Linked DNA regions of Homo sapiens: regions 1 and 3 are each linked to region 2. Evidence: fine-mapped expression QTL. A gene starts in region 2. Each other region holds a variant in brackets. All regions are shown on one strand. Distances are from middle to middle.

Region 1 (10,274 bases), 33 kb after region 2:
AAAAATCTCATCTGGTGACACTCGCCCACGTGGCTGCTGGGGATGGGATCCCGTCCGCATCTGCACCGTGGCCCCACAGCCCCCTCTTGCCTCCTGCGGGCCTGCTGCACACCATTTCCTCCTGACTGCCCAGCTGCTGTGACCTAGTGGGCTTTCTGCCGATGCTCACCGTGTCTGTCGGGAGGCCATGCAAAGCAGATGTTCACAGCTTTACATTTTTTTGTTTCTTTAAGATGGAGTCTCACTCTATCACTCAGGCTGGAGTGCAGTGGCGCGATTTCGGCTCACTGCAACCTCTGCCTCCCAGGCTCAAGTGATAGTCCTGCCCCAGCCTCCCTAGTAGCTGGGATTATAGGTGCGTGCCACCATGCCCAGCCAAGATTTGTATTTTTAGTAGAGACAGAGTTTTACCATGTTGGCCAGGCTGGTCTCAAACTCCTGACTTCAGATGATCCGCCCACCTCAGCCTCCCAAAGTGCTGGGATTAGAGGTGTGAGCCACTGCGCCTGGCCTACTTTGTTTTTAATAAGGCACACACTCTGCTTTTCTATCTGATGAACTCTTTTTTTTTTCTCCTTTTGAGGATGATGATGACGACATGGGAGAGGATGAAGATGAGGACGATGGTTTCTTTGTGCCCCATGGGTACCTGTCTGAGGACGAAGGTGTGACAGAGGTGAGGGAGTGAAGGGGGAGGTCACCGGCTCAGCAAAAGTTCATTTCTGGACTGGTGCTCAGTGGCCTGACCTGGGAGGGTGACGGGGGTCCCAGCCCAACCATACGAGATTTGGACTGCATTCCAAGCACGCAAGCTCACTCGTGGGAACAGCTGGGCCTGAACTTGGTATTACCTGGGAGGGTGGCAGACGTAGGAGGAGCTTGCAAGCGAGGGGAGCCATAGGAGCAGACACCCTGGTGAGGGAGCGTGGCCATGGTCTGTGGGTTAGAAGGCTGGAAACCACCCGAGCTGACATACAGTCAGCATGCAGCAAGACATGTGCATTGTAAGTGTTGAGTTTGATGACGTAACAATCAAGTGAATGTGGGCAACCACCGCCCGAAATAAAACAGAACTTCCCTATCTCTCCAGAAGATTGCCCACGTCTCTGCAGGCGAACCTGCCTGCCACCCCTTTCCAGATTCCATAAGGTTGTGGAACTGTCTTTTTTTTTTTTTTTCTTGAGACGGATTCTCATTCTGTTACCCAGGCTGGAGTGCAATGGCCCGGTGTTGGCTCACTGCAACCTCTGCCTCCCGGGTTCAAGCAATTCTCCTGCCTCGGCCTCCCAAGTAGCTGGGACTACAGGCGTGTGCCACCACACCTGGCTAATTTTTGTATTTTTAGTAGAGACGGGAGTTCATTATGTTGGCCAGGCTGGTCTTGAACTCCTGACCTCCAGTGATCCACCCGCCTCGGCCTCCCAGAGTGCTGGGATTACAGGCATGAGCCACCGAGCCCGGCAGGAACTTGCTTTCAAGCAAGTTGTTTTTGGTCCTGTTTTGTTTTGAAGGCCTGTCGTTTGGGAAGTGGGGATTTGGTGGGACTGTCTCATGGTTGGACTGGAGGCCTAGGCATTCCTTGTGCATATCTGACCACCGAGGCCTGAACTGTCAGTCAGAGAGTGGTCTCAGGCCCTGCATGTGTCTGCCAGATGCCTGGGCCATGTGGGTAGACACCCAACCCTGTTAAACGGCTCCACGATCACACATTCACCAGAAAATTCAGAGGGGTGTTAAAAGAGGCCTCATGGGTGAGTTCAGAAATATCTGTGACGCTCCCAAAGGAGACCAGGTGTGAATTATTCCATCTGGAAGAGGGGCAGCCAGCGCATGGTGTGCTCTGCCCTGGCCCTGACACTGTGGGAAGTTTTGTGCCCCTGTCCTTTCCTCTTGCTCCCCAGCTGGCTGGGGACTGGTTCCTCAAAAGAGTGCCCGGGCATAGGGGAGCAAGAACCCCAAATAAACTTCTGCTTTCTAAACCACAAGGAGTGTGCCGACCCTGAGAACCATAAGGTCCGCCAGAAACTGAAGGCCAAGGAGTGGGACGAGTTCCTGGCTAAGGGGAAGCGCTTTCGCGTCCTGCAACCTGTGAAGATCGGCTGCGTGTGGGCGGCTGACAGAGACTGCGCAGGCGATGACCTGAAGGTACTGCAGCAGTTCGCAGCCTGCTTCCTGGAGACCCTGCCGGCCCAGGAGGAGCAGACGCCCAAGGCCTCCAAGCGGGAGAGGAGAGACGAGCAGAGTGAGTGTGGGCGGGGCCAGGCCACCCACCTGTTCCTGGGCCCAGCTAATTCCAGGGCTGAGGGCAAGAGTCACAGGCTAGTGGGTCCGTGATGCAAATGTTCTTTCCACAAATAACAGAGGCCAGCCCTTTTCCTGTACATGTCCGTACGTTCAATGATGTCCCTAGCAGCAGGACGAGGCAGGTCCCTTAATTGGCTTGTTTTATCAACCAGGACACAGGCACAGAGAGTGCTGGAGTGGGGGCTGTGCTTTCTCAAAAGCCAGGGAGGGGCCGGGCACAGTGCCTCATGCCTGTGATGCCAGCACTTTGGGAGGCCAAGGTGGGAGGATCGCTTGAGCCTAGTGCTTCGACACCAGCCTGGGCAACATGGCAAAACCCCATCTCTGCAGAAAATGCAAAATTACCTGGGTGTGGTATCACGCACCTGTGATCCCAGCTACTCAAGAGGCTGAGGTGGGAGGATTGCTTGAGCCTAGGAGTTTCAGACCACAGTGAGCCATGATCCTGCCACTGCACTCCAGCCTGGGTGACAGAGCAAGACCCTGTCTAAAAAAAAAAAAAAACTCAAAAAACTGGGGAGGGACCATGGCACACAAGGAGAGCAGGGCAGTCATTTGGGTAGGAACAGCAGGCATTTGAAGTCAGCCCTGGCAACACACGTGCCCGGCCAAGGCTCACTTCTGGGCAGGTGCGTAGGTGCTACCCTGTCTTACACCCGCCCTCATGAGGCCACCTATCCCCGAAGCTGGCCATGCCCCAAGCCTCGGTGGCAATGAGCTTGTGTATGTGTTTTGTTTTTTGGCCTGTGGTGATGGGTGGCTCCCCAAGCCTCATGCCCACCCATGTTCCCTCCTGCCAGTCCTGGCCCAGCTGCTGCCGCTCCTGCACGGCAATGTGAACGGGAGCAAGGTCATCATCCGGGAGTTCCAGGAGCACTGCCGCCGGGGACTGCTCAGCAACCACACCGGCAGCCCGCGGAGCCCCTCCACCACCTACCTGCACACCCCCACCCCCAGCGAGGATGCCGCCATCCCCTCTAAGTCCCGGCTCAAGCGGCTCATTTCCGAGAACTCAGTGTATGAGAAGCGGCCTGACTTCAGGATGTGCTGGTACGTGCACCCGCAGGTGCTACAGAGCTTCCAGCAGGAGCACCTGCCCGTGCCGTGCCAGTGGAGCTATGTGACATCGGTGCCCTCGGCCCCCAAAGAGGACAGTGGCAGCGTCCCCTCCACGGGGCCCAGCCAGGGCACTCCCATCTCGCTGAAGAGGAAGTCAGCGGGCAGCATGTGCATCACCCAATTCATGAAGAAGCGCAGGCACGACGGCCAGGTGAGGTGGGGTGGGCAGGTGGGGGCCTCTGCAGGGCTTTTCTTTTTTTGTTTGTTTTTTGTTGTTTTGTTTTTTTTTCGAGATGGAGTCCTGCTCTGTCACCCAGGCTGGAGTGCAGTGGCGCAATCTCAGCTCACTGCAACCTCCTCCCTCCTGGGTTCAAGTGATTCTCCTGCCTTAGCCTCCTGAGTAGCTGGGATTACAGGTGTACGCCACCATGCCTGGCTAATTTTTGTATTTTTAGTAGAGACGGGGTTTCACCATGTTGGTCAGGCTGGTCTCGAACTCCTGACCTCATGATCCGTCTGCCTTGTCCTCCCAAAGTGCTGGGATTACAGGCGTGAGCCACCTCGCCTGGTGTTTTTGTGTTTTTTAAATAACCTTACTCTTAGAGCAGTTTTAGGGTCACAGCAAAATCGATTGGAAGGTACAGAAAGTTCCCATACACCTCCTTCCCCAAAGCCAAGCCAAGCCACCCAACATCACCTCCCAGAATGGTGCATTGGTTACAATCAGTGCACCTCAGGCCAGGCACTGTGGCTCACGCCTGTAGTCTCAGCACTTTGGGAGGCTGAGGCGGGAGGATCACTTGAGCCCGGGAGTTGGAGACCAGCCTGGGCAACATGGCAAAACCCCATCTCTAAGAAAAAATTTTTAGATTAGCCAAGCGGTGGCATGCACCTGTAGTCTCAGCTACTCAGGAGGCTAAGGCGGGAGGATTACTGGAGCCTAGGAGATTGAGGCTGCAGTGAGCTATGATCATGCCACTGCACTGCAACCTGGGCGACAGAGCAAGACCCTGTCTCTAAAAATAAATACATAAAACGCACCTTCGTTGATTTATCACCACCACTAGGGTTTGTTGCTGGTGTTGAGGGTTCTGTGATTTGAATGAATGTTGGATGCTGTGCGTCTACCTTTATTGTTTTAAACAAAGAGGCTTCTCCCCACTGAAAGGCCCCTGTGCTCTGCCCGTCCAATCCCTTGGAAATCACCAACCTCTCTATCTCCGTGGATCAGCCTTTTCCAGATTGCCCTGTAGCTGGAATCGCATCGTGTGTGGCTCCTTTGACTTGGCAGTATGCGTTGACAGTTCCTCCGTGTCTGTTTGTGGCTTGATAGCTCTTTTTTTTTTCACACTGAATAATATTCCATGTGGTAGCATTTTTATTTTTGTTCAACGGTTCTTGAATTTTGCATTCAAGCACAGTTATTAAGCACTTACTGTGCTCCAGGCACTCTGATCGGTCTCTCAGACACAGGTATATGCAGAACACCGCCCGGTGTAAGGCACAGACAGGAGCCTGTAAGGGGAATGAATGGCTGTGTGATTCCAGCCTTATGGGTGCCTCGGAGGCACAAGCGCATGGAGCCCTGGGGTGTGTGATGGGGGCACTGTCTGGTCTTAAGAAACTCTCATGCCCAGAGAGCCACTGGCCCCTGGCACCCACCCCTGGCCATAGATCGGCTTTGTTAACGTTCATTGCATACTTTTTGTCCTTACCACACAGTGTTCGGAAGTGAGTTTCTCTTTTTTCTTTTTTTTCCTTTTTTTTTTTTTTTTTTTTTTTGAGACAGTCTCGCGCTGTTGCCCGGGCTGGAGTGCAGTGGTGTGATCTGGGCTCACTGCAAGCTCCGCCTCCCGGGTTCACACCATTCTTCTGGCTCAGCCTCCCGAGTAGCTGGGACTACAGGTGCCCGCCACCACGCCCGGCTAATTTTTTGTATTTTTAGTAGAGACGGGGTTTTACCGTGGTCTCAATCTCCTGACCTCGTGATCCGCCCGCCTTAGCCTTCCAAAGTGCTGTGATTACAGGCATGAGCCACCACGCCTGTCCTGGCCTTTTTTTGAGTCAGGGGTCTTACTCTGTTGCCTAGTCTGTAGTGCAGTGGCGTGATCACCACTCACTGCAGCCTTGACCTCCCCAGGCTCAGGCGATCCTCCCACCTTAGCCTCCTCAGTAGCTGAGAGGGACTACAGGTGCATGCCACCACACCCAGCTAATTTTCTGTAGAAACAGGGTTTCACCATGTTGCCCAGGCTGGTCCCCAACTCCTGGGCTTAAGCAATCCCCCTGCCTTTGCCTCCCAAAGTACTGGGATTATAGGTATGAGCCACCGTGCCTGGCTCCCTGAGTTTGATTTCTAATATCTACACTTAACGCAGACCTATCTGTCCCTGTGAACCTTGGGCTTTCCTTCAAGGCCACGATCTGATGGAGTTACAGGTTTTCAGAGACTTGGGACAAGGAGCAAGACAGTGGATAACCCCCGGCCCCAGCTTGCATCCTCTTCTCTGATGTTAAAGGTGGTCGTTGGCTGGGCACAGTGGCTCACGCCTATAATCCCATCACTTTGGGAGGCCAAGGCGGGCAGATCACCTGAAGTCAGGAGTTCGAGACCATCCTGGCCAACATGGTGAAACCCTGTCTCTACTAAAAATACAAAAATTAGCTGGGCATGGTGGCAGGTGCCTGTAATCTCAGCTACTCGGGAGGTTGAGGCAGGAGAATCGCTTGAACCCAGGAGGTGGAGGTTGCAGTGAGCCGAGACCACACCATTGTACTCGAGCCTGGGCAACACAGCAAGATTCTAGTCCCCC[A/C]AAAAAAAAAGAAAAGAAAAGGTGGTCGTTAGGGGCAGGGAGGCGAGAGAAATGGCTCCTGAGATGATGCTCAGCCATCTCCCTGCTGCCAGCACACAGCCATGGGCCTTAATATGCTGTGAATCTCCCTCAGCTGTCACAGCAGGAGGGGCCATCATAACATCCCAAAGGGTCCAGGGCTACGACTGAAACTGTTCCTGGCACTCCCTAGAGCCTCTGTCCCTGTACAGTGTGTCATGTGCATAGTTCCCCTGGCTCTGTGGAGGCGGCTTGGCGCCGTGGGAAGCTCAGTGCATTGGAGCTGGGGCCACAGGAGGCCCCCACACAGAGCTTTGCTGGATGCATTCTTTGTTCAAGCCCTGTGTGAGCAGTGCCTTTCCCTGGTCACCTGAGCAGCCTTAGAGGGAACCGGAGCTCCCCAGCCTGAAAATGATCGGGGCGGGAAGGTACTATCTGGTTGTGTCACTATGCAAGCAGTTTTCCAGGGCCTTTGCTGATCAGCCCTCCCCTGGGAACCCCTGTGTCCCTCAGATGTTCCTTTGGGGTCTCCTCATGCTCCACACAGTAGTCCAGGCCCTGGACGGCCTCCTTCCCCACCCCTCTCCACTGATTTGATGCAGCAGCTGCCTCTCCCAGCTGGGGTGCAGTGCCCCGCCCCTGGTCCTCCCAAACACTGCTCTTGCTCCCTGTCAACATGTGGAACCCATGTTTCCCCACCCGGAAAATAGCGCCCTGAGCCCCATGTGCCCAGCACCACATCAGAGTTACTGTGCTTCGGGGGCAGTGAGTGCCTGTTTATCATCCCTAACCACAAGGAAAGAAGGGTGCACCCAGTTTAACTAGAGTGGGTCAGAGAGGTTGGGTGGGCCTTGGAGTTAGCAAAACACAGCATCTCACCTGCTAATGGATGGCAGTGGTGGCCACATGCGCGTGATTGGTGGCCTCTGCTGCGTGGCACAGGTGAGGGCCTCCTGGGGCTCAGCAGTGCAGCGGACGCACGAAGGTCACACGTGAAGGAATGGAGACCCAGGCCCAGCTTGATGCTTAACCCCCACCCCTGAACCTCCTGCAGTTTGGGACATAAACGTCCCTGGGGAGCAGGGTCTGGTCCTGTGTTTTTTTTCAGAGCTTGTGTGGGGAGGGGCACACAGGTGGGACCCAAAGGTGGGGCTGTGGAAGCACATGAGCCCGGATGGGACATGTGCCCTGGCATCCTCTGTTTTTTTTTGACAGGGTCTCACTCTGTTACCTAGGCCGGAGTGCAATGGTGCAGTCACAGCTCACCGCAGCCTCCACTCCTGGGCGCAAGTGATCCTCCTGCCTCAGCTTCCTAAGGAGCTGGGAGTATAGAGGCACGTGCCACCATGCCCAACTAATTTTCAAATATTCTGTAGAGACAGGGTCTATGTTGCCCAGGCTGGTCTCCAACTCCTGAGCTCTAGCGATCCTCTCTCCAGCCTCCTGGCATTTAATAAAGCTGCTGACTGATGCTTCTGCACCCAAGGGGAGGGATAAGCCATTCATCTGCAAGTGGTGTACATCCATATTTTTTACTCGGTTACACTTTTTTTCCCAATTTGAAAGTTTTCATCTTTTTTATTTTATTTTATTTTATTTTGACGGAGTCTCGCTCTGTCGCCCAGGCTGGAGTGCAGTGGTGCGATCTCAGCTCACTGCAAGCTCCACCTCCTGGGTTCACGCCATTCTCCTGCCTCAGCCTCCCAAGTAGGTGGGACTACAGGCGCCCACCACCACGCCCAGCTAATTTTTTGTATTTTTTTAGTAGAGACGGGGTTTCACTGTGTTAGCCAGGATGGTCCCGATCTCCTGACCTTGTGATCTGCCCGCCTCGGCCTCCCAAAGTGCTAGGATTACAGGCGTGAGACACCACGCCCGGCATCTTTTCTTGTTGTTAAATTAGAAACAGGGTCTTGCCCTGTTGCCCTTTATTATTTTAGGTTCAGGGGTACATGTGCAGGTTGGCAAACTCATGTCACGGGGGTTTGGTGTATAGATGATTTATTGGGTACTAAGGTATTTTTTCTGAATTTCTCCCTCCCACCGTCACATAGGCTCCAGTGTCTGTTGTTCCCCTCTTTGTGTCCACATGTTCTTATAAGTGAGAGCATGTGATATTTGGTTTTCTGTGCCTGCGTTAGTTTGCTGAGGATAATGGTTCCCAGCTTCATCCATGTTCATGCAAGAAGAGGTTTTTTTGTTTTGTTTTGTTTTGTTTTGTAGATATTGGGTCCTGCTGTGTTGCCCAGGCTGGTCTTTGAACTTGTGGGCTCAAGCAATCCACCTGCCTCGGCCTCCCAAAGTACTGGGATTACAGACCTGAGCCAGGGAGTCTTTAAATCTTTTTACTTAGAGCTCAAAAGAGATATTCTTAAGGCATTCTGACCTAGTGGGGTGAAGTGCCATGTATCTGTGAAGCCCTAGGACACCTCAACTCTTCGGGCCTCCGTTTTATTTAAAAATTTTAAAATACAAGGAAGGATGTGTTTGCCCTTGCCAACAAAACATTATGTGATCAAAATAAAACTAAAGAAGCATAGATGGCCGGGTGTGGTGGCTCATGCCTGTAATCCCAGCACTTTGGGAGGCCGAGGTGGGTGGCTCACAAGGTCAGGAGATTGAGACCATCCTGGCTAACATGGTGAAACCCGTCTCTACTAAAAATACAAAAAATTAGCCAGGCGTGGTGGCGGCTGCCTGTAGTCCCAGCTACTCGGGAGGCTGAGGCAGGAGAATGGCATGAACCTGGGAGGCGGAGCTTGCGGTGAGCCGAGATCGCGCCACTGCACTCCAGCCTGGGCAACAGAGCGGGATTCTGTCTCAAAAAAAAAGCATAGATGGCTGGGTGCAGTGGCTCACGCTTGTAATCACAAAACTTTAGGAGACCGAGGCAGGCGGATCACTTGAGAGGCCAGGAGTTCAAGACCAGCCTGGCCGACATGGTGAAACCCCATCTCTAAAAATGCAAAAATTAGCTGAGCATGGTGGTGCACGCCTGTAATCCCAGCTACTCAGGAAGCCGAGGCAGGAGAATCACTTGAACTCAGGAGGTGGAGGTTGCAGTTGAGCCGAGATTGTGCCACTGCACTCCAGCCTGGGCAACAGAGCAAGTCTGCGTCTCAGAAAAAAAAAAAAAAGACAAAAAGGCACAAATGTTAGTGACACCATCTTCATCCCATGTAGTCGTTAAACGTTTTCCTGACTCCTGTTTTCCGTAGTCTGCGCTCCTCCGTGTCTGTGTTTAGCACTTGCAGTGCTGCTGGCGAGATGACAGCTGTCCCCGTGAAGCAAGCTGCCGGCAGCTCAGCACAGTGGGACTCGGTGTTATGTGTTAAATCCTGTCTTCAGCCTAGAGGGTGAAGAGTGGTGATTGCTCTGAAAAATTTTGGATCCAAGAAAAGCCTAATGTGTCAACGCGTCTCCTGTGTGGAGGGAGGGCCCAGTGACTTGAGGTGGCTCTGAAGAAATTGGCATGTTCTTTTGTTTAACGTCCCCAGACACCTCCAGATCAGAATGTCCCTCCTCAGCAGCGTCTACAGGGGACTCTTAGACTCTTCTTTGCTTAACTATTCTTTCAAAAAGGTAGTTGAAAATGGCCGTAGGCCAGGCTCAGTGGCTCATGCCTGTAATCCCAGCACTTTGGGAGGCTGAGGCAGGAGGATCACTTGAGACCAGGAGTTGAAGGGTGCAGTTACCTGTGATTGCACCACTGCACCACAGCCTGGGTGACAGAGCAAGATGTTTCTCCTGTGTCCTCACAGGGTCAACCCATGCTGCCTGGGGAGAGGGACAGCCTGGGCTCCCAGCCACTGAAGAGAGGATCCAGGAGGGGAGCCCCTACCCAGGAATTGATGAGGCTACGGTAGGAACCCAGTCTGCCTGGCCAGGCACTGTGCTCTTACATGACAGCCCATGAAACCAGTCTATGGCCTGACCGTTGTGTTGCTGTGCGGTCACTTTTCTAGGTTTTTGTAGAGGAAGAATTCCTGGAATTTTTTGAGGACTATCCTCCCTACTGAAATAAGTGTGGCTGTCTGTCCTGGGATGGGCTTGTGTTCATGCACAGAGAGGGTAAGCACT
Region 2 (10,274 bases):
CATGGCAATGATCACAGAAGAGCATGGAACGCAGCCAGGGTGACTTCTAAGAGCACGACTCAGGACAGAATTGACCAGGAGGCCAAGACGACAGCCCCGAGGGTGGGCTGTGGCCATTGTGCTTTGGGACTAGGCCTCGGGATGTGGAAATAGGCAATCCTAAGCCCAGCTAACACCACACTGTCCTTTCCAGGCTTCAAGGCGCCATTCACAGATCTGAACGCAGGTCATCCTGCTTCCCTTGAGAGAGACAAAGTCCTGGTGGCCGGCACAAGAGGCCTGGTTCATTCCTCTAAAGAGGGTGTCAGCTCAGGACAATATGGGCACAGGCCCTGATCGCTGGGAGTGGGGGTGGTGGCTTCCAGAGACCTGTCTATAGCAGGGAACAAAGTGGCCCAGGAATTCCTCCAAGACCTCTGAGGACATCTTTCCTGCTAGGGAGCAGTACTCTATGGTGCTCTAACCAAGCAGGTGAAGGTCTGACGCCTGCTGGGCAAGGTCTAACCCAGGGCCAGGCCATCTGATTTCAAAGTGCTGGGGCAAGGGGGTGGGACTGTTCTCAGTGACAACTCTAAAATTCGTCTGGATTAAATCTTTCTCCAGGGTTTAACCATCATCTGGGGTGTAGAGATAGACCCTAAGTATCTATATCCCTAAACAACCACTAGGGTTGTTACTTTTTTTATTTATTTTTTGAGACAGGGTCTCACTTTGCTGCCCAGGCTGAAGTGCAGTGGCACGATCATAGTTCACTGCAGCCTTGAACTGCTGGGCTCAAGTGGTCCTCCTGCCTCAGCCTCCCAAGTAGCTGGGACTGCAGGTGCACATCACCACACCTGGCTAACTTTTTCATATTTTGTAGAGATGGGATCTCCCTATATCGCCCAGGCTGGTCTTGAACTCCTGAACTCAAGGGAACCCCTGCCTCAGCCTTCAAAGTGCTGGGATTACAGGCATGAGCCACAGCACCTGGCAGGGTCCTTACTTTTTTCTTTCCAGGGGCAAAGGTACCTGCTGGGTGTTACTGGGGACTCGTTTCTCTTTGCTCCCACTGGGCATCTCCGAACTGTGGGCAGAGAACCCTGTTTGCCACCTTGGCCCAAGCATTTGCTAAGATCATTGCTCATTCCTCGGTGGACTCTATCTACACAAATTCCACACAACCTCACCCTGCAGTACACGGACCAATAGGATTCAACAATCTGAGGCTTCTTGTCTTTTTTTTTTTTTCAAGACGGAGTCTCGCTCTGTCACCCAGGCTGGAGTGCAGTGGTGCAATCTCGGCTCACTGCAACCTCTGCCTGCCGGATTCAAGAGATTCTCCTGTCTCACCCTCCTTAGTAGCTGGGGTTACAGGCAAAAATACAAAATTTTTGTATTGTTAGTAGAGATGGGGTTTTGCCATGTTGCCCAGGCTGCTCTCAAACTCCTGGCTTCAAGTGATCCGCCCGCCTCGGCCTCCCAAACTGCTGGGATTCCAGGCATGAGCCACCGCGCCCGGCCAAATTTGAGGCTTCTTGCATTCGAAATTGCAAAGTGAAAATTTTAAATGTGCCCAGTTTTCTGGAGAGTGGATCCACAGCTTTCACCAGATTCATGAGCAGTGGGCCCTGGAGTTTCCAAAAAAAACCCTTTATCTGTCCATATCAAATGCACTTAGGCTGGGATGCAGCATTCTACTTCTGGGAATTCATCCTATAAAACTAATCCCACTGGTGAGCAAAGATATTCACTGGCTATTTATTGTAGTAATGGTAACAGAAAATTCCGGTAAACAATAGAGATATCTATCAACTGACAACTGGTTAAATAAATTATGGTATATGTCATGGAATGAAATACAATGTACCCATTAAAAAGAGCCAAGTAGGCCAGGCAGGTGGCTTACGTCGATAATCCCAGCATGTTGGGAAGCCGAAGCAGGCGGATTACTTGAGGCCAGGAGTTCGAGACCACCCTGGGGCACATGGAGAAACCCTGTCTCTGCTAAAATTACAAAAAGTAGCCGGGCGTGGTGGCGCATGCCTGTAGTCCCAGCTACTGGGGAGGCTGAGGCAGGAGAATTGCTTGAACACAGGAGGCGGAGCTTGCAGTGAGCCGAGATTGCACCACTGCCCTCCAGCTGGGGCGACAGAGCATGACTCCCTCTCAAAAAAAAAAAAAAAAAAAAAAATCCAAGAAGTGTGGAGTATGGTCTAGAGCAGTAGTCCTGGGGGACAGGAAAGGAAGGGAGGAAGGAAAGAAGAGAAGGGAGGGAGGGAGAGAGGCAAGGAGGGAGGGAGGAAGGAAGGAAAGAAGGAAGGAAGGAACGAAGGGAGGGAAGGAGGACTGATTCTAAGGGGACACACGGTGATGTCTCAAGATATTTTTGGTTGTCACGACTTGGGGGTGCTCCTGGCCCGGAGTGGGTGGAGGCCAGGGGCGCTGCTCAGCACCCCGCAGTGCCCAGGACGGCCCCACCACGGAGAACAATCCAGCCCCAGATGTCAACAGTGCCGACGGAGGGGGAGAAATCCCGCTCCAGTGTGATCTCCAAGCAATGAAAAACACAGCACACAGGATTCTGTGGCATATGCTATCACAGGGTACGTGTTTTTAAAGGAAAGGCACACACGTATCTTAGGAAAGGGACATACGGAGTCGATGACAGTCGCTTGTCTCTGGGGAGAAGGGCTGGCTGCCCGAGGAGCAGAGAGGGGAAACTGACTTCTTCCTCTACCTTTTCAACTTTGTACCTTGCCCATCCAGAGGATTTTGAACGTAACTGCTCTAGACGCAACTTTTCCCTGGCTCTGGGTTATCTGGCAAGAGTCCTGTGTCGACAGCCTCGGGACTCCTCTCTTCCCCTTCTCTCCCCGCACCCCGCCTTTGCAGCGGAGAGAAGGAGGGGAGAGGTCCGCGTCCCTGGGCAGCCCAGGGTGCCTCTCCCCTCCTCCCAGGGGCTCTGTCCCCGCTTCTGGAGCCCGCATGGCGGGCAGGGCCTGGGCCACCTCGTCGCCCCCGTCCGTCCCTTGGTCTTCCCACCTGGCAGGGGACACGCGCCAACGTCCCCACCTCGGTCCCCCCGGCCCCCTCCCGGGCCAGGTCGGGCCTGGCTCCCTCATCCGGGCAGCCCGGGGCCCGGTACTCGGCTCCCGCCTGGGCCTGCGCTCACCTGGCTCGCCTTGTAGAACTGCTTCTTCAGCCCCGCCACCGACATGCTGCCGCCCGCCGCCGAGCCTCCCGCCCGGACCGCGCCAGCGACAGGCTCCCGGGCGCCGCCGACCCTCTGCGCGCCTCAGCAGTCCCCGTCGGCGCCGCCTCCGCCACCCGCTTGCCAGCTCCGCGCCCGCCCCGGCGCCGCCTCAGCCGCTCGCGCGCCCGCGCGGCCAGGATATTACATGGCAACCGCACGCTTCCGGTGCCGGCCCCCGCGCGCGCCCCCGGCCCCCGCGCGCGCCCCCGGCCCCGTCTGCGCACGCGCGCCCTCTGCCGGCTGAAGAGCGCACGTGCACATTGTCTACCGCGGGAGAGGCCGCCTCTGTCAGTGAGTTGAGCGGGGCGAGCCTAGAGGGGCCGTAGCAGTTGCAGCGCCCCCTGGAGTCGTGGAGGTGACCCTAACGTCTTGGAAAACGCGCTTAGTTTAAACCTGGCCAGGGAGGTTGGGAAGTAGAAGGGGCCCCTGCTTACGATTCTTCAGATTCCTGTTTACTCATCTTAGCTAAATCCAGTTCGTCTAAGTGTTCAGCCCCCTCCCATTTTTATTTATTTATTTATTTTTTTTTTGAGACGGAGTCTTGCTTTGTCTCCCAGGCTGGAGTGCAGTGGCGTGATCTCGGCTCACTGCAACCTCCGCCTCCCGGGTTCAAGCGATTCTCCTGCCTCAGCCTCCCAAGTAGCTGAGATTACAGGCGCGCACCACCATGCTAGGCTAATTTTTGTATTTTTAGTAGAGACAGTGTTTCGCCATGTTGGCCAGGCTGGTCTCGAACTCCTGACCTCAGGTGATCCAACCCCCAACCCCCCCACCAAATCCAGCCTCCCAAAGTACTGGTCTCACAGGTATGAGCCACCGTGCCCGGCCACCTCTCTTCCTCTCTCTCTCTGTCCTGTGTTCATCCATTCAGTTGCCCACGTGACACATCTAGACATCTAGGTCTGTCTTCATGCCTTGACCATACTTTCCACCAGTCCTCCCCTCCAATTCTTCCTTGTCATGGCAGCCAGAAAGATGCTTCTAGAATGCAATTCAGGGCCAGGGGCGGTGGCTCACGCCTGTAATCCCAGCACTTTGGGAGGCCTAGGTGGGCGGATCACGAGGTCAGGAGATTGAGACCATCCTGGCTAACACGGTGAAACCCTGTCTCTACTAAAAAATAGAAAAAATTAGCCGGACGTGGTGGCGGGCGCCTGTGGTCCCAGCTACTAGGGACTCCGTCTCAAGAAAAAAGAAAGAAAGAAAGGAAGGAAGGAAGGAAGGAAGGAAGGAAGGAAGGAAGAAAGAAAGAAAGAAAACCTGTTTCTACACTCACAGGCTGACACTGAAGTTCTCTGTTTTGTGTGAGGCTTTTAATCTGCTTGATCTACACAGTTCAATCAAATATTTATACATTCACTCAAACATTTATTGACCTGGTAAATATGATCAGTTACTAACAGGTCCTGGGGTTCCAGTGAGGAATGAGTCCTACCCTCGCCAGAACTAATGACAAAAGGCAGAAATTAATTCATTAGTCAAATAACAAACTAATAAATAGACACAGCTGTAATTGCTTTAAGGAAAAGAACAGTGTTGTAGGCACTTGATATTGTCAGGGTTGGGGAAGAAAAGGCTTCCTGGGGTGACGATCTAAGATCTGAAAAGTATAAATTAGCCAGGAAAAGAGCTGCGAAAAGATTGTTCTAGGCAGAGAAAACAGCATGTGCCAATTTCCTGAGGATTAAACCAGAAACGATCCATTTCGTCCATTTCGTTCACTCATTCTACATGTTATTTACTGAATGTCAAATACTTCCGAAGCGCTCCCCAGACTTCGTTTTATTGTTCTTGTAGAAAGCAATTTATAATTTTAATTGCTGTTGCTATATTTAGCCGATGTCCCATTAGGATAAACTCAAAACTCCAGGTTCCTCATCTAAATCCCACTTTCAAGTTGTCATCTGCGCCTTGCGTAAAATGTTCTGGTGACGTAAGAGCCTGGGCCTCCCTCCTCTTAGGGACTATCCCACGCGATCAGCCAGTCGCAGCGCAGAGCAATGAGCTTGACACCTCCTTCCTCCAATCGCAGGGCAGCTCCTCCCAGCCAATGACAGGCCTCCGAGGGGAAGCCCAGTCCCTCGCGGATATGTCAATGGGCGAGCCCTGGGAGGAATGGAAGTCACGGATCTCGCGAGGATGCCCCCGGCGCCCCTCAATTCCCGAGGCGGGCCGTCACGTGACCCGGGCTCGCCCAATTGGCGCGCGGACTGCGGGGGTCGCCGCGGTTCCCGCCAAATACGAGCGCGGCGGCCGCGGCGGCAGCAGCGGCGCGGGCGGGAGGGCGAAGAGCAGCGGCCGCCTGAGGGGAGCCCGCGCCTCCGCCGCCTGAGAGGAGGTCGAGCTGCCGCCGGGGCGATGCTGGAGGAGCTGGAGTGCGGGGCGCCCGGCGCCAGGGGAGCCGCCACAGGTCGGTTCGGGCCCGCGCCGAGGGGAAGGGGGGGCGCGGCGCGCGGCCTGGACGGGCCGAGGCGGCGATGGGAGGCGGACGGGCCTCCGGGCGCCAAGCCTGGTCCTGCGGGCCGGGCGTTCACCCCCTGGGGCCTTCTCATCCCCAGCGAGGGCCTGGCGTCCCCAAGGGCACCCTTGTTGACGTTATTGTTGTAGCCGCGACCATATTGTTTGTTTCCGGCGCTTTTGCGTCAGTTCGTCCCTCCAGGACTCTCTGGGGCGGTGGGTCGGAGGGGCCGAGAGGGGAAACTGAGGCCCAGGGAAGCGAAAGGGCTTGCCCTGCAGGTTACTGGATGCGTTTGTGTCCCTTGACCATGTTGGACCTTGCAGCGGGTGGGGAAACTGAGGCCCAAGGTCGCACGGGCTCGGGGACCAGTACCGATGCCGCTGAGGGTCGGGGTAAGCCCGGGTAAGAAGAGGCCCAGATGGTAGAGATGGCCAGGAGGGTGGGACTCCCGAGTTCTTGCTCCTTCCTGATATGCACCGTGACTTCCTCCTCCGTGTGCCTTGGAATGGGGTCTTTGGAGCCCACCACAGGCCTCCTGAAACGTGGGAGGGTGAACCAAGGAAGACCAGACTGTCCCTCTCCCTTGCTGGACTCTGCATTACATAACGCTTTGGCAGCACTTGGCATTACGCTTTGGCACATAGTAGGTGCTCAGTAAATAACGTGAACGAATGAAGGGCTAGAATGGACGCCAGTCCAGTTTCTCAGCCTCAGCAGTGTTGATATTTGTTGCCGTCCTGGGCACGGCACTGCAGGGTGTTAAGCATCATCCCTGGCCTCCGCCTTTTGCAGGCCAGTAGCAGCCCCTCTCACCATGCCTTAGTAACAGCCAGAAATACCATTGCCCTGTGTCCCCTATGGGGCAGATTCCGCCTTGGCTGAAAATCATGGCTGTAGTTCCTTCTAGCCTGTGGGATTTCCCGGAGACATAAAATTAATATAAAGTTGGTACTGTCGTGGAGCTGTGATGTTTTAAGTCAGGATGTTTAACTTTATTTATTTATTTATTTTGAGACTGAGTCTTGCTCTGTTGCCCAACCTCTGCCTCTCTGGTTCAAGCGATTCTTCTGCCTCAGCCTCCCAAGTAGCTGGGATTACAGGCCTGCACCACCATGCCTGGCTAATTTTTGTATTTTTTAGTAGAGACGGGGTTTCACCATGTTGGGCAGGCTGGTCTCGAACTTCTGACCTCAGGTAATCCACCTGCATTGGCCTCCCAAAATGCTGGGATTACAGGCATGAGCCACCATGCCTGGCCAGGATATTTAACTTTAAAAAAAAAAATCGCTACTCGCTAGGACCATGCTATCATGAAAGGAAAGTATATTTTAGTGCCAAATAAAATTAGAAAGGATGTAATCGCAGAATAAAGAGCAGTTAGTAACTTTATACACACATATGTGTTAATCGTGTGTATCTTTGGATCTCTGGATTGGGAGTGTCCCGTTTTATATACAAGATTTTTTAATGAGGGTGGGTCCTGTTTTTAATGAGGTTGTTTCTGTTCCACTTGCACCAAAGCTAGTGACTCAAAGCCACACAAATAGATTTTTGTGATTGTCTCGAAAATAAAGTTAAGTGACTAAAAATCATATCCTTCAGTTAGGGGGTAGAAATCCATGGCTTTTGGTAAGTGGACACTTGAGAATGATACTGTCTTTATTTCTTTGAAGTGGCTAGAAAGGAAACATGAATTTTCTCAGTACCTTTTCTTATTCACTAAGCTTGGGGCGGTGGGTGAGGGGTGGTTTCATGTATGGACGATGGAGTTTTTTAGGAAGCCCCAGTCTGCTTTTAAAAAGTACTCACTTTTATGTAATGCTTACAAAACATACGTAGATTAACCAAAATAACTAAACTAGGTTTTGCCAAGCCAGATCTCCTGGTAAGTGTGAGCTTCCTAAACTTACTCTGTTTAAGGTATTTATCTAAAGACTCGCTTCTATTTATGATCACTGCTGCATCTGCTTTGATATTATTAGATGGTTTCTTGAGATTTTTTTTGCAGGAAAATATTTTGTCTTATCTTCTCTTGACAGCACTTCAGCTCCTGCCTGGCAAGCTCAAAGTGCTTTAAATTGTGGTACCTTCATGAATTCTCTTTAAAAAGAAAAGGATCCCTTTTCTGATTTTACAGATTTGGTGGTGGTATGGGGGCTTGGGTTGGAGGAAGATGTTTGGGGATCATGGGAATGAAATAGGTAATCTGATGTTTTCTCTCCTCCCTACTTTTACTCATTCCACTTTCATTTCATGAAACAGTTCCGGTTACTCTCTTAGTTGGCTTTCTGATTTATTCCAGACCCTAACCAGGTACCATAGGTGCAGCATGGAACAAGTCTTTCTGCTGTCATAGAGTTGGCATTTTGTTTCCAGAGAGACGTAATAAACACGAAAGTTTCAGATTAAATGCCACAAAGAAAATAAAACAAGACATGACAGTGTCTAGGGTAGGATTTCTCAACCTATTAACATTTTGAGGCCAAGCGCCGTGGCCAGCACTTTGGGAGGCTGAGGCGGGTGGATCACGAGGTCAGGAGTTCGAGACCATTCTGGCTAACATGGTGAAACCCCGTCTCTGCTAAAAATACAAAAATTAGCCGAGAGTGGTGGCATGCGCCTGTAGTCCCAGCTACTTGAGAGAGTGAGGCAGGAGAATCGCTTGAACCCAGGAGGCGGAGGTTGCAGTGAGCTGAGACTGTGCCATTGCACTCCAGCCTGGGCGACAGAGTGAGACTCTGTCTCCAAAAAAAAAAAAAAAATTTTTTTTTTTTGGCCCATATAATTCTTCATTGTGGTGTGCTGTGCATTGCATTGTGGGACATTTAGCAGAATCCCTGGCCTCTACCCACTGGATGTGAATAGCATCCCTTTGAGCCCTCCCTGCATCATGACAACCAAAAACATCTCTAGACTGTGTCAAATGGCCCCCGAGGACAGAGGGGTCAGAATTGCCTCCACCTTGTACATAATTGGCTCTACATATGTATTTGCTAACTTGATTATTTGCAGAATTTAACAGTTTACCCTTTGACACTTTTATTTGCAGCCATGGATTGCAAAGATAGACCAGCTTTTCCAGTTAAGAAGTTAATACAAGGTAATTATTTGGAAATGGGTTAAAGAGTTGTTCGTAGTTTATAGTCTTCCTTGTCTCTTGTTGGAGACCTCAGTGGAAGCCTGGAGCTAGAGGGGAGAGAAACAGTCCTTCTTCAGACCAGGAAGCTGGGAAAATGCTTTTCACACAGTAATGTCTCGTGGGGTTCCCACAAGTAAACCCCGAGGCCTCCACTTATGCACGATTGGTGTTTTGTAACTTGCAGCTGGGAGCTCTCCTGTATGTTGTAGGGAGCGTAGCAGCATCCCTGGCCTCTTCCCACCGGATGCCAGTAAGTGCATCCTCCAAGTCGTAACAACCAAAAATATCTCTATACGTGGCTGATGTCCCCTGGGAGGTAGAACTGCCCCCTCAGAGAACCACTGTTGTCCTGGAAGATAAATGCTCCCAAATCCTTCTGCATAAAACGGGGAGTGTGTTCACCCTTGGGCCAGATGAGCGGTTGGATTGTAATTTTTTTTTTTTTTTTTTTGAGACGGAGTCTCATTCTGTTGCCCAGGCTGGAGTGCAGTGGTGCGATCTCTGCTCACTGCAACCTCCGCCTCCTGGGTTCAAGCAATTCTCCTCCTTCAGCCTCCCAAGTAGCTGGGATTACAGGCGCGTGCCACCACACCCAGCTAATTTTTCTATTTTTAGTAGAGATGGGGTTTTACCATGTTGGCCGGGATGGTCTCGATCTCCTGACCTTGTGATCCCCCTGCCTCAGCCTTTCAAAGTGCTGGGATTACAGGTGTGAGCCACCGCACCCGGCCCAGATTGTATTTTTAGAAACTACAGTTTTGGGTTTTTCAAACTTGGGCTGGGTGCAGTGTTGCATACCTGTAAAACCAGCTATTTGAGAGGCTGGGGTGGGAGGAGTGCTTGAGTCCAGGAGTTCAAGGCTGCGGTGAATTATAATGACACCACTGCTCTTCAGCCTGGATGACAGAGGAAGACTCTGTCTCTTGAAAAAAAGGGGGACGCCAGATGCTAGGCTCACACCTGTAATCCTAGCACTTTGGGAAGCTAAGGTGGGCGGATTGTCTGAGCTCAGGAGTTTGAAACCAGCCTGGCCAACATGGTGAAACCCCGTCTCTACTAAAATACAAAATAGCTGGGCATGGTAGGGGGCACCTGTAGTCCCAGCTACTCAGGAGGCCGAGGCAAGAGAATTGTTTGAACCCGGAAGGAAGAGGTTGCAGTGAGCCAAGGGTGCGCCACTGCACTCCAGCCTGGTGACAGAGCAAGACTCTGTCTCAAAACAAACAACTCCCCCCACACCCCCCCCAAAAAAAAACAGGTTTTTATTTGGTCTATTACATGATGAAATAGTTAATAAAAGATGCAATGGCATTGAAGTAAGTGAACATAGGTTCTTTGGGAAATTCACTCTCCAAAGTGTTTCTGTGTTCCTCCTAACCAGCCCGAAGCCTGGCAGACTCTGGGAGAACAGTTTGATTGATGAGAAAAGCCTAACAGAGCCT
Region 3 (10,274 bases), 130 kb after region 2:
AGGCGTGCACCACCACACCCGATTAAGTTTTGTATTTTTAGTAGAGACGGGGTTTCACCATGTTGGCCAGGCTGGTCTAGAACTCCTGAGCTCAATTGATCCGCCTGCCTGGCCTCCTAACGTGCTGTGTTTACAGGTGTGAGCCATCATGCCTGGCCTGCTTAACCATTCTTTTAAGCAGCCTTTTAAAAATATAGGTTGGGTGCAGCAGCATGCACTTGTAATCCCAGCACTTTGGGAGGCCGAGATGGGAGGATTGCTTGAGCCCAGGGAGGATTACTTTGAGACTAGCTTAGGCAATACAGCAAAAAACCCTGTCTCTAAAAAAGAAATACAGAAATTAGCCAGGGCTGGGCACAGTGGCGTGTGCCTATAGTCCCAGCTGCTTGAGAAGCTGAGGCAGGAGGATCAATTGAGCTCAGGAATTGAAGGCTATGGTTAGCTACGATCACACCACTGCCCTCTAGCCTGGGCAACAGAGCAAGACTCCATCTCAAAAAAAAATTAAAATTAAAAAAATGAATGAAAAATAATAAAAAAAGAGAAAATCCACACAAGATATGGTGGAAAAAAATAAAAAGAATATATCATAGTCCAGGCACAGCGGCTCACGCCTGTAATCCCAGCACTTTGGGAGGCCAAGGCAGGGGGATCACTTGAGCCCAGGAGTTGGAGACCAGCCTGGGTGACAGAACAAGACCCCATCTCTAAGAAAAAAAATTTTTTTTTTTGAGATGGAGTCTCGCTCTGTTGCCCAGGCTGGAGTGCAGTGGCGCAATCTCGGCTCACTGCAAGCTTCACCTCCCAGGTTCACGCCATTCTCCCACCTCAGCCTCCTGAGTAGCTGGGACTACAGGCACCCGCCACCACGCCCGGCCAATTTTTTGTATTTTTAGTAGAGACGGGGTTTCACCATTCACAGGATGGTCTCGATCTCCTGACCTTGTGATCTGCCCTCCTCGGCCTCCCAAAGTGCTGGGATTACAGGCGTAAGCCACCGCGCCCGGCCTAAAAAAAAATTTTTAAATCAGCCAGATGTGGTGGTGTGCACCTCTAGTTCCATTTGTCTAGGAGGATGAGGCAGGAGAATCACTTGAACCCAGGAGGCGGAGGCTGCAGTGAGCCAAGATCATATCACTGCACTCTAGCCTGGGCGACAGAGTGAGACTCCACTTCAAAAAAAAAAAAAAAAAAAAAAAAAAAACAACAATGGTTGGGCGTGGTGGACTCACGCTTGTAATCCCAGCACTTTGGGAAGTCAAGGCAGGTGGCTCACCTGAGGTCAGGAGTTTGGCCAACATGCAAAACCCCATCTCTACTAAATACACAAAAATTAGCCGGGTGTAGTGGTGGGTGCCTGTAATCCCAGCTACTTGGGAGGCTGAGGCCGGAGAATCGCTTGAACACGGGAGGCAGAGGCTGTAGTGAGCTGAGATCGCAACACTGCACTCCAGCCTGGGCAACAAAGTGAGAGATTCTGTCTCAAAAAAAAAGAAAAAAAAATTCAGGAGTGCCTGGCACACAAGAAGTGCCTGATCAATGCCTCACTGCCTTTTTTTTTTTTTGAGATAGAGTCTCGCTCTGTCACCCAGGCTCAAGTGCAGTGGTGCGATCTCTGCTCACTGCAAGCTCCACCCCCCGGGTTCACGCCATTCTCCTGCCTCAGCCTCCTGAGTAGCTGGGACTACAGGCGCCCGCCACCACGCCCGGCTAATTTTTTGTATTTTTAGTAGAGACGGGGTTTCACCGTGTGAGCCAGGATGGTCTCGATCTCCTGACCTCGTGATCGGCCCGCCTCGGCCCCCCAAAGTGCTGGGATTACAGGCCTGAGCCACCGTGCCCGGCCGCCTCCCTGCTTTTCTGCTGAGGTGGGGGTAAGCCCATACATTCTTCCAGTACTGTAAGGCCAGAGTTGGACATTCACATGGTCTCCAGGGCCAGGCAGGTACCAAAAACCATCAAAGTAGATATGACATAAACCACTGGGGACTAGTGGAGCTGAGCAAACCATCTGAAGGAGCAGACAATATTCTGGCTGTGTCTAGTTTTTCTTTTTTTTTTTTTGAAACGGAGTCTCGCACTGTGGCCTGGGCTGGAGTGCAATAGCGCGATCTCAGCTCATTGCAACCTCCACCTCCCAGGTTCAAGTGATTCTCCTGCCTCAGCCTCCCGAGTATCTGGGAATACAGGCACACGCCACCACGCCTGGCTAATTTTTTGTATTTTTAGTAGAGACGGGATTTCACTATGTTGGCCAGGCTGGGCTCGAACTCCTGACCTCATGATCTGCCCACCTTGGCCTCCCAAAGTGCTGAGATTACAGGCGTGAGCCACTGTGCCTGGCAGTGTGTCTGGTTTTTCAAAACAAGCCAAGAATCGGGACATGTAATGCAAAATCTGGTTGTTAAATGCATGCAAAGAATGAAAATATTTAAAACACGCTGCACAGGCATTTGGGGGCCACCAGTTTGGGACCTCAAGTCTAAAAGCCCTATATGCCCTTAGGGTCTGGGTGTTCTGACTCCTGGCGGGATGCAGGTTGAGGGGCCGTGGAAGTGACCGGGAGGGAGGACAGGCCTGGTTTTGAGTTGTATGTTTCCTGCTGATCTGCTGTGTGACCTTGGGTGAGTCTCAGACCTCTCTGATCTGTACCACAGGGGATGGGGACGGGGCAGGACTCAGGGGTTAGGGTTGAGGGTGTCGTCCTCACCGAGCTCTTCCTCCGTCATGGGCAGGAAGTGATCCACCAGCTCCTCTGATTTTTCCAGTACAACATCCACAGCATGGCTCACGGAGCGCTTCAGCTCCACGCTCCAGCGCCGGCCCCTCCGGGCCAGGTCCACCACACCCGTGACACTGCTGGCCACCACGTCCTTGGCTGAGGTCACCACCTGGAAGGAAGGGCCCCCCCACTCCAGGCACCGTGGGACTCCAGCTCCATTTCTGCCACCCTAGTTCCCTGGGGCTGGGACTCAAAGATCCCTGGACTTCTACCTGGCTCCGTGCCTCAGTTTCCCCTATAAAATGGGTGATAAAACCCTTCCCTCACAGAGGGTGTTGAGGGAGTTAACTGCCCTTACTAGCAATACATATGTATACACACATACATATACATATATACACATATACACACATATACATATATACATGTATATATACACATATACATATATACTTATACGTATATATACATATATACTTATACGTATATATACATATATACACTATACGTATATACATATATGTATACACACACACACACACACACACACACACACACACACACACGTTGCAGTTATTTTAACCTGGCTGTTTTTTCTTGAGTTAACTAAAAGCCTGGTTGTCACCATCCCTCCCTCCCTCCCGCCTCTAATCTGGCCTGCCCCCACTGGAGGTCCCCATGTCTAGTCGTCCGGGGTACCGTCTCCGAAGGTTGCTGGAGAAAGGGAAGCTTCTCTTCCAGCTTGTCCAGGCCCCTGCAGGCGAGGCTGTTCATAGTGGCCACTGAAGGGAGAGAGGCGGGGAGTGAGACTCGGGGAGACGCAGAGGGAGATAGGGACGCAGTGAGAGTTGTAGAAGGAGGGAATGCTAGAGAGAGAAGCAGAGACAGAGAAGGAAGGAGACCAGGATAAGACAGGGAGAAACAAAACGGAATGATGGAGACGAGACCCACACCAGGAGATGGACAGGCTTTCTGAGACCTTACACCAAGAAGCCGCTTACACCAAAGACGCTGGGGCAGACACCTGTGGCGCCTGGAGAGAGAGTCTACGAGGGAGATGGGGAGAAGGCCTAGACCACAGGGGGACCTGGCTGCCTCCCTAGGTGAGACTGGGGGCCCTGAGGGTGTGGGTAGGCCGCTGGGTTGGGCACTGCCTCCTCTGCCATCCTGCCTGGGCCCTGCCACCCACCCTGTTCTCCCAGCACCAAGGCGACTTTTCAGCCGTGCCCAGCTCAGATGGCCCAGCGGACAGACTCAAGGTCACAGAAGCTGGCTGAGAGGGAGGTGAGGAGGTGCTGGGCTAGGACCCTCAGGTGACCCTCTTCCTGGGTCAGACTAGAGGCCAAGGATCCTGTAGTCCCCCGCCTGTCATCGGCTCAGGGGTCCACAGAGATGTGAGAACTACAGAGCGGAGGCTGCGGGGCTTAGGACAGGCAGAGGCAGGTGCAGAGGGGAGGGGGCCTGGAGAGACAAATGGACCCAAGGCACATCAGGCCAACAAAGGAGGGGACACAGGGAGACAGATGGATAGGGACAGAGAGGAGGGGCCCCACCAGTAAACAGGTAAGGGCAGAGGGCCAGGGGATCAGATTTATTTATTTATTTTGAGACAGAGTCTAGCTCTGTCACCCAGGCTGGAGTGCAGTGGTGCGATCTCGGCTTGCTGCATCCCCTGCCTCCCAGGTTCAAGCGATTCTCCTGCCTCAGCCTCCCATGCAGCTGGGATTACAGGCGCCCTCCACCACGCCTGGATAATTTTTTGTATTTTTAGTAGAGTTGGGGTTTCACCATGTTGGCCAGGCTGTTCTCGAACTCCTGACCTCAAGTGAGTGATCTGCCTGCCTCGGACTCCTAAAATACTGGGATTACAGGCATGAGCCACCGCACCTATCAGGGGATCAGTTTTTTTTGTTTGTTTTTGCTTTTTTTTTTTTGAAATGGAGTCTCACTCTGTTGCCCAGGCTGGAGCGCAATGGTGCGGTCTTGGCTGACTGCAACTTCTGCCTCCCGGGTTCAAGCAATTCTCCTGCATGAGCCTCCTGAGTAGCTAGGATTACAGTTATGTGCCACCACACCGGGCCAAGTTTTGTATTTTTAGTAGAGACAGGGTTTCACTATGTTGTCCAGGCTGGTCTTAAACTTCTGACCTTGTGATCCAACCGCCTCAGCCTCACGAAGTGCTGGGATTACAGGCATGAGCCACCACACCCAGCCAGATTTAAAAAAAAAATTTTTTTTTTGAGATACAGGGTCTCGCTACGTTGCTCTGGCTGGTCTTGAACTCCTGGCCTCAAGTGATCCTCCTTCCTCGGCCTCCCAAAGTGCTGGGATCATAGGCATGAGCCACCATGCCTGGCTGGTGATCAGATTAAAGAAGGACTTAAGTGAAGAGATTGAGGACAGGTGGCATGGCAGTGGGACAGGTGGCTAGGCTGAAGATGACCCCCAGGAGTGTCATGCAGATAGACCAAGGAGGATGGGACAGGGGGCGGTGGGGGGGTGGCAAGCCACAGCTCCCAGGGACACGGGCCAGGGCACTCACGCTGGGGCTGCAGGTGCTCGAGCAGCGGCTGGGCGTGGTCCAGGGCACGGGTGGTCAGGCCGCACACGCAGTTCTCAGCCAGGCGGCAGGCGGAGCCCAGCAGCGGGTGCCTGTCCTTGGCTGCACTGTAAACATCGCAGACCGCGGTGCACGTGGCCCTGACCAGGGGCAGAGCCACCACACGCTGCACCACGTTCTGCGGGAAGGGTCGGCATCAGGGGGACCCTGGGGGAAGTGGGGCCCTAGCCACACCTCAACCTACTTCCCCTCTCTGGGCCAG[G/A]ACGAGGGATGGGAGAGTGGAAGGATGGAGTACTGAGCACCCCGCCACGTAGAGGCAGTGAAGATAAACGTGGATGTGAGAATGTCATGGTTCCTGCACTCACAGGCTCCTCTTCCCATGGCGTACACAGAGCATTACAATTTTGTTTGTAATGGGGTTTCACTCTTATCACCCAGGCTGGAGTGCAGTGGCACCATCTCGGCTCACGGCAACCTCCTCCTGGATTCAAACGATTCTCCTGCCTCAGCCTCCCAAGTAGCTGGGATTACAGGTGCCCGCCACCACACCTGGCAATTATATTATAAGAGGGAGTCTCGCTCTATCGCCCAGGCTGGAGTGCAGTGGCACGATCTCGGCTCAGCGCAACCTCCGCCTCCCGGGTTCAAGTGATTCTCCTGCCTCAGCCTCCCGAGGAGCTGGAATTACAGGCATGCGCCACCATACCCGTTTTTTTTGTTTGTTTTGTTTGTGTATTTTTAGTAGAGATGGGGTTTCTCCACATTGGTCAGGCTGGTCTCAAACTACCGACCTCAGGTGATCCACCTGCCTTGGCCTCCCAAAGTGCAGGGATTACAGGCGTGAGCCACCGCGCCCAGCCAATTTTGTTTTTATTTTTATTTTTAGTAGAAACAGGGTTTCACTATGTTGACCAGGCTGGTGTCGAACTCCCGACCTCAGGTGATCCACCCACCTCAGGTGATCCACCCACCTCAGCCTCCCAAAGTGCTAGGATTACAGGCCTGAGCCATTGCACCTGGTCACAATTTTTTTGTTTTCAATAGAGACAAGGTCTTGCTCTGTTGGCCAGGCTAGAGGGCAGTGATTCAAGCACGGCTCACTGCAGCCTAAGCCTCCTAGCCTCAAGCAATCCTCCAACCTCAGTTTCCAAGTACCTGGGATTACAGGTGCACACCACTGTGCCCAGCTAATTTTATTTTATTTTATAGAGATTGGGTCTTGCTGTGTTGCCCATGCTGGTCTTGAACTCCTGGCTCAAGCGATCCTCCCGCTTCAGTCTCCTAATATGCTGGGATTATAGGCATGAGCCACTGCACCTGGCCAAATACTATATTTTTTTTATCTGCATTTGGTTGAAAAAGGTCTGCATACTTCTGTCTCCTGGGTTCAAGAGATTCTCCTGCCTCAGCCTCCCAATTAGCTGGGATTCCAGGCAGGCACCACCCCACCTGGCTTTTTTTTTTTTTTGAGATGGAGTCTCGTTCTTGTTACCTAGGCTGGAGTGCAGTGGCGTGATCTCGGCTCACTGCAACCCCCGCCTTCAGGGTTCAAGCGGTTCTCCTGCCTCAGGCTCCCGAGTAGCTGGGAATACAGGCACCCGCCACCACACCCGGCTAATTCTTGTATTTTTAGTAGAGACAGGGTTTCACCAAGTTAGCCAGGCTGGTCTCGAACTCCTGACCTCAGTTGATCTGCCCGCTTGGCCTCCCAAAGTGCTGGGATTACAGGCGTCTGAGCCACCGCACCCAGCCTGACCTGTGCAGTTCAAACCCATGTTGTTGAAGGGTCCACTGCGATCTGTCTGCTCGAGGGAGGAGATGTTAGAGTCTGGGGGTTCAGAGCACTGCCCCTGGAGCACAGTGGCCTCTGTTCACTTCTGGTTCAGCTGCCTGCAAGTTGTGTGAACTTGGGCAAGCCACTGAACTGTTCGGTGCCTTTGTTTCCCCATCTATGAAATGGGTTACTAGGGTTGTGATGGGTGTTCAAGGAGCCAATATACATGAAACGGTTGGAACTGTGACTGATACAGTGATTGCTGCTCTTACTATTGTTGTTACTGAGGGCGCCATGATGGTGGACGTGGAGACAGAAGGATACAGGTGGAGACCCAGGGATCAAAGGAGAGGGAAAGGGTTGGGTAGGGGCCACAGAAGCCAGCTGGGTGTCTTTGAGAGACACTCCCCTCCCAGGGCCTCATTAAGCCCCCACTAGGAAATAGACCATCCCCTCCATGGACCAAAATATTTTATGACTCAGGTTTTCCCAGCAAGGAGAGGAGTGGGGCGGGATACCTGGCCTGAAACGCTCCTAGAAGGGACTGTCCCACACAATACCTTCTGTCCCTGCTCCATGGGAGGGGCAGCCCTCACCTGCTGGTCCTGCTCCCACACACTGGATCTGGGGATCTGAGCCGCCTCTTCTTCAGACATCGTGCTGCAAACAGGGTCACCCTGCGGGGCAGGATTGAGTAAGGGGAGCACCTGCCCAGGCATCAGATCCTGTCAAATTGGGCTCTGTGACTTGAGCAACTCTCAAACCTCTTGGGGCCTCAGTTTCTTCATCTGCATAATGGGGCATTCTGTGGAGCTCAGACAATGCATGTCCAGAGCTCTGTACACAGAGGGTGTCCAATAATGAGCCTCTGGCAAGGTAGGGTTGCCGGAGTGACTCGAAGCATGGTCTCTGAGGTGAGAAAGACCTGGGTTCAAATGCTACCATTAATTGCGGTGTTATTTTTATTATTTTTTTAAAGACAGAATCTCTCTCGCCCAGGCTGGAGAGCAGTGGCGCCATCCCAGCTCACTGCAATTTCCGCCTCCCAGGTTCAAGTGATTCTCCTGCTTCAGCCTCCCAGTTAGCTGGGATTACCCACGTGCCACCATGCTCGGCTAATTTTTGTATTTTTAGTAGAAACCGGGTTTCGCCATGTTGCCCAGGCTGGTCTCAAACTCCTGGGCTCAAGTGATCTGCCCACCTCGGCCTCCCAAAGTGCTGGGATTACAGGCATGAGACACTGCACCTGGCCAGCTGTGTGATTTTTGGCAAGCACCTTCACCTCTCTGGGCTGCTTCCTGTTTTGTAAGATGTGGGAGGTCCCTGCTACCCCTGCGGCCCCTGCCTGGGCCCAGAACTGCCCAAGCACCCTAGACGGCTGGAGGTGGTAGCTGCTGGGTCCCAGTCCACTCACAGCTCATTTGACAGACAGGGCAACTGAGGTACGCAGCAGGTCCATGCTGGTCCCAAGGTCACGCAGCCAGCTAGAGTTACAGGGGGGGAGCTCGACCTCGGGCCTCAGACCTGCCGCCTGCGATCCCTCCGGTTGCCACCCCGCGTCCTCTGAGGCCTGGTCCTCGCCCAACTGGGTCCTGAGCTGGGGCCAACCGGGCCAAGGGTCCCAGCCACCTGCTCTGGCCGGTCATACCCGTCCCACGCCGCCGGACCTTCGCCCAACCACCCTATCTGGAGCTCCTCTCCTAAGCCCGGGGGGGCGCTCCCGGACGCCGCCCTCAGGGCACTCACCTGGGCGCGAGCGGCTTCAGACACCAGCTGTCTCCGCCGACCCCAGGCTCGAGTCTCCACACCCCCGCCGGTCCCGCCCGCCCTTCTTATAGCTGCTCGCGCAGTGGGGGCCTCCGGAACTGACCAATGGGGAGAGGCCGTGCGGGGGCGTGCCCAGGGGGCGTGGCTCCAGGCTTCCCTCGCCCTCTCCTTGAGCTGGCCCAGTGCCCTACGGTTGCCATAGTAATTCGGGAGCGCTAGATTCAAAAGATTGAGCTATTATACGTTCCCGGACCAAGTTTGGCCACCTGTCATCCTCACTGCTGTTGCCATAGAGACAGTCCATGCGATCACAGCCCCCATAGCCCTGCTGAGTGACCTTGGCCAACTCGCTGATGACTTTTCTTATTAATTATTATTATTTATCGATTTTTGAGACTGGGTCTTGCTCGGTTGCCCAGGGCTAGAGTGCAGTGGTGTGATCATAGCTCACTGCAGCCTTGCCCTCCCAGGCTGAGGTGATCCTCCCGCCTCAGTCTCCTAAGTAGCTGGGACCACAGGCACACACCACCACCCCCAGCTAACTTTTTAAACTTTTTGTAGAGACGAGATGTCCCTGTGTTGACCAGGCTTGTCTTCAACCCCTGAGCCCCAAGTGATCCTTCCACCTCAGCCTTCCAAATTGCTGGGATTACAGGTGTGAGCCATTGCACCCAGCCTCTTTTTATTTCTTAATCTGCCCCTTAACTAAGCCAGAAGCCAGGCCTTCCCTTTCCCTAGGATCCCCATTTCACAGATGAGCAAGCTGAGGCTCAGAGATCATAAAACACTTGCCCCGCATACCACAGCAAGTGAGGGATCCTATTCCTTTTTTTTCTTTTTTTTTTTTTGAGACAGAGTCTGACTCTGTCGCCCAGGCTGGAGTGCAGTGGCGCGATCTTGACACACTGCAACCTCCGCCCCCTGGGTTCAAGTGATTCTCCTGCCTCGGCCTCCGGAGTAGCTGGGATTACAGGCGCCTGCCACCACACCTAGCTAATTTTTGTATTTTTAGTAGAGACGGGGTGTCACCATATTCGTCAGGCTGGTCTTGGACTCCTGACCTCGTGATTTGCCTGCCTTGGCCTCCCAAAGTACTAGGATTACAGGCATGAGCCACCGTGCCCGGCCAGGGATCCTATTCAAACCCAGCCCTGCTGGACCTCAGAACCCTGCCTTTTCATTGCCTTGCCTGGAATGACCACAGATGTAGGCATGGTCTTTTTATTTTTATTTTTATTTTTGAGACACAGTTTCACTCTGTCGCCCAGCCTGGAGTGCAGTGGCGTGATCTTGGCTCACTGCAACCTCCGCCTCCCAGGTTCAAGTGATTCTCCTGCCTGACCCTCCCAAGTAGCTGGTATTACAGGCACGTGCCACTGTGCCTGGCTAATTTTTGTATTTTTAGTAGAGACAGGGTTTTGCCATGTTGGCCAGTCTGGTCTCGAACTCCT

What was found. PIP is the estimated chance that this variant, and not a neighbour inherited with it, causes the effect.
Region 1: its variant is the best candidate, but not a certain one, in a credible set for the expression of CHAF1A in lung (TOPMed, PIP 0.64).
Region 3: its variant is the best candidate, but not a certain one, in a credible set for the expression of CHAF1A in minor salivary gland (GTEx, PIP 0.79).

Annotation. Positions count from the first base shown.
Region 1 is chr19:4,429,966-4,440,239 of GRCh38, forward strand. CHAF1A (chromatin assembly factor 1 subunit A) reads left to right here. Exons shown (of 15, transcript NM_005483.3): 11 at 584-676; 12 at 1,987-2,242; 13 at 3,105-3,574. Among named protein-coding and RNA genes, the nearest start is that of MIR4746, 11 kb to the right of the region's middle. RefSeq lists enhancers at 765-1,528, 6,714-7,214, 7,215-7,715. The variant A/C (reference allele first, on the strand shown) is at 6,177.
Region 2 is chr19:4,397,170-4,407,443 of GRCh38, forward strand. CHAF1A (chromatin assembly factor 1 subunit A) reads left to right here and starts at 5,471. Exons shown (of 15, transcript NM_005483.3): 1 at 5,471-5,645; 2 at 8,743-8,793. The coding sequence starts at 5,594. It overlaps SH3GL1 (SH3 domain containing GRB2 like 1, endophilin A2), which reads right to left and starts at 3,378. Exons shown (of 10, transcript NM_003025.4): 1 at 3,155-3,378. The coding sequence starts at 3,199. RefSeq lists enhancers at 2,739-3,568, 5,231-5,928, 5,929-6,624 and silencers at 2,857-2,906, 2,967-3,476, 5,439-5,718.
Region 3 is chr19:4,526,363-4,536,636 of GRCh38, forward strand. PLIN5 (perilipin 5) reads right to left here and starts at 8,862. Exons shown (of 8, transcript NM_001013706.3): 1 at 8,803-8,862; 2 at 7,653-7,733; 3 at 5,265-5,460; 4 at 3,422-3,504; 5 at 2,711-2,891. The coding sequence starts at 7,712. It overlaps LRG1 (leucine rich alpha-2-glycoprotein 1), which reads right to left. Exons shown (of 2, transcript NM_052972.3): 2 at 10,040-10,274. RefSeq lists an enhancer at 8,013-8,568. The variant G/A (reference allele first, on the strand shown) is at 5,545.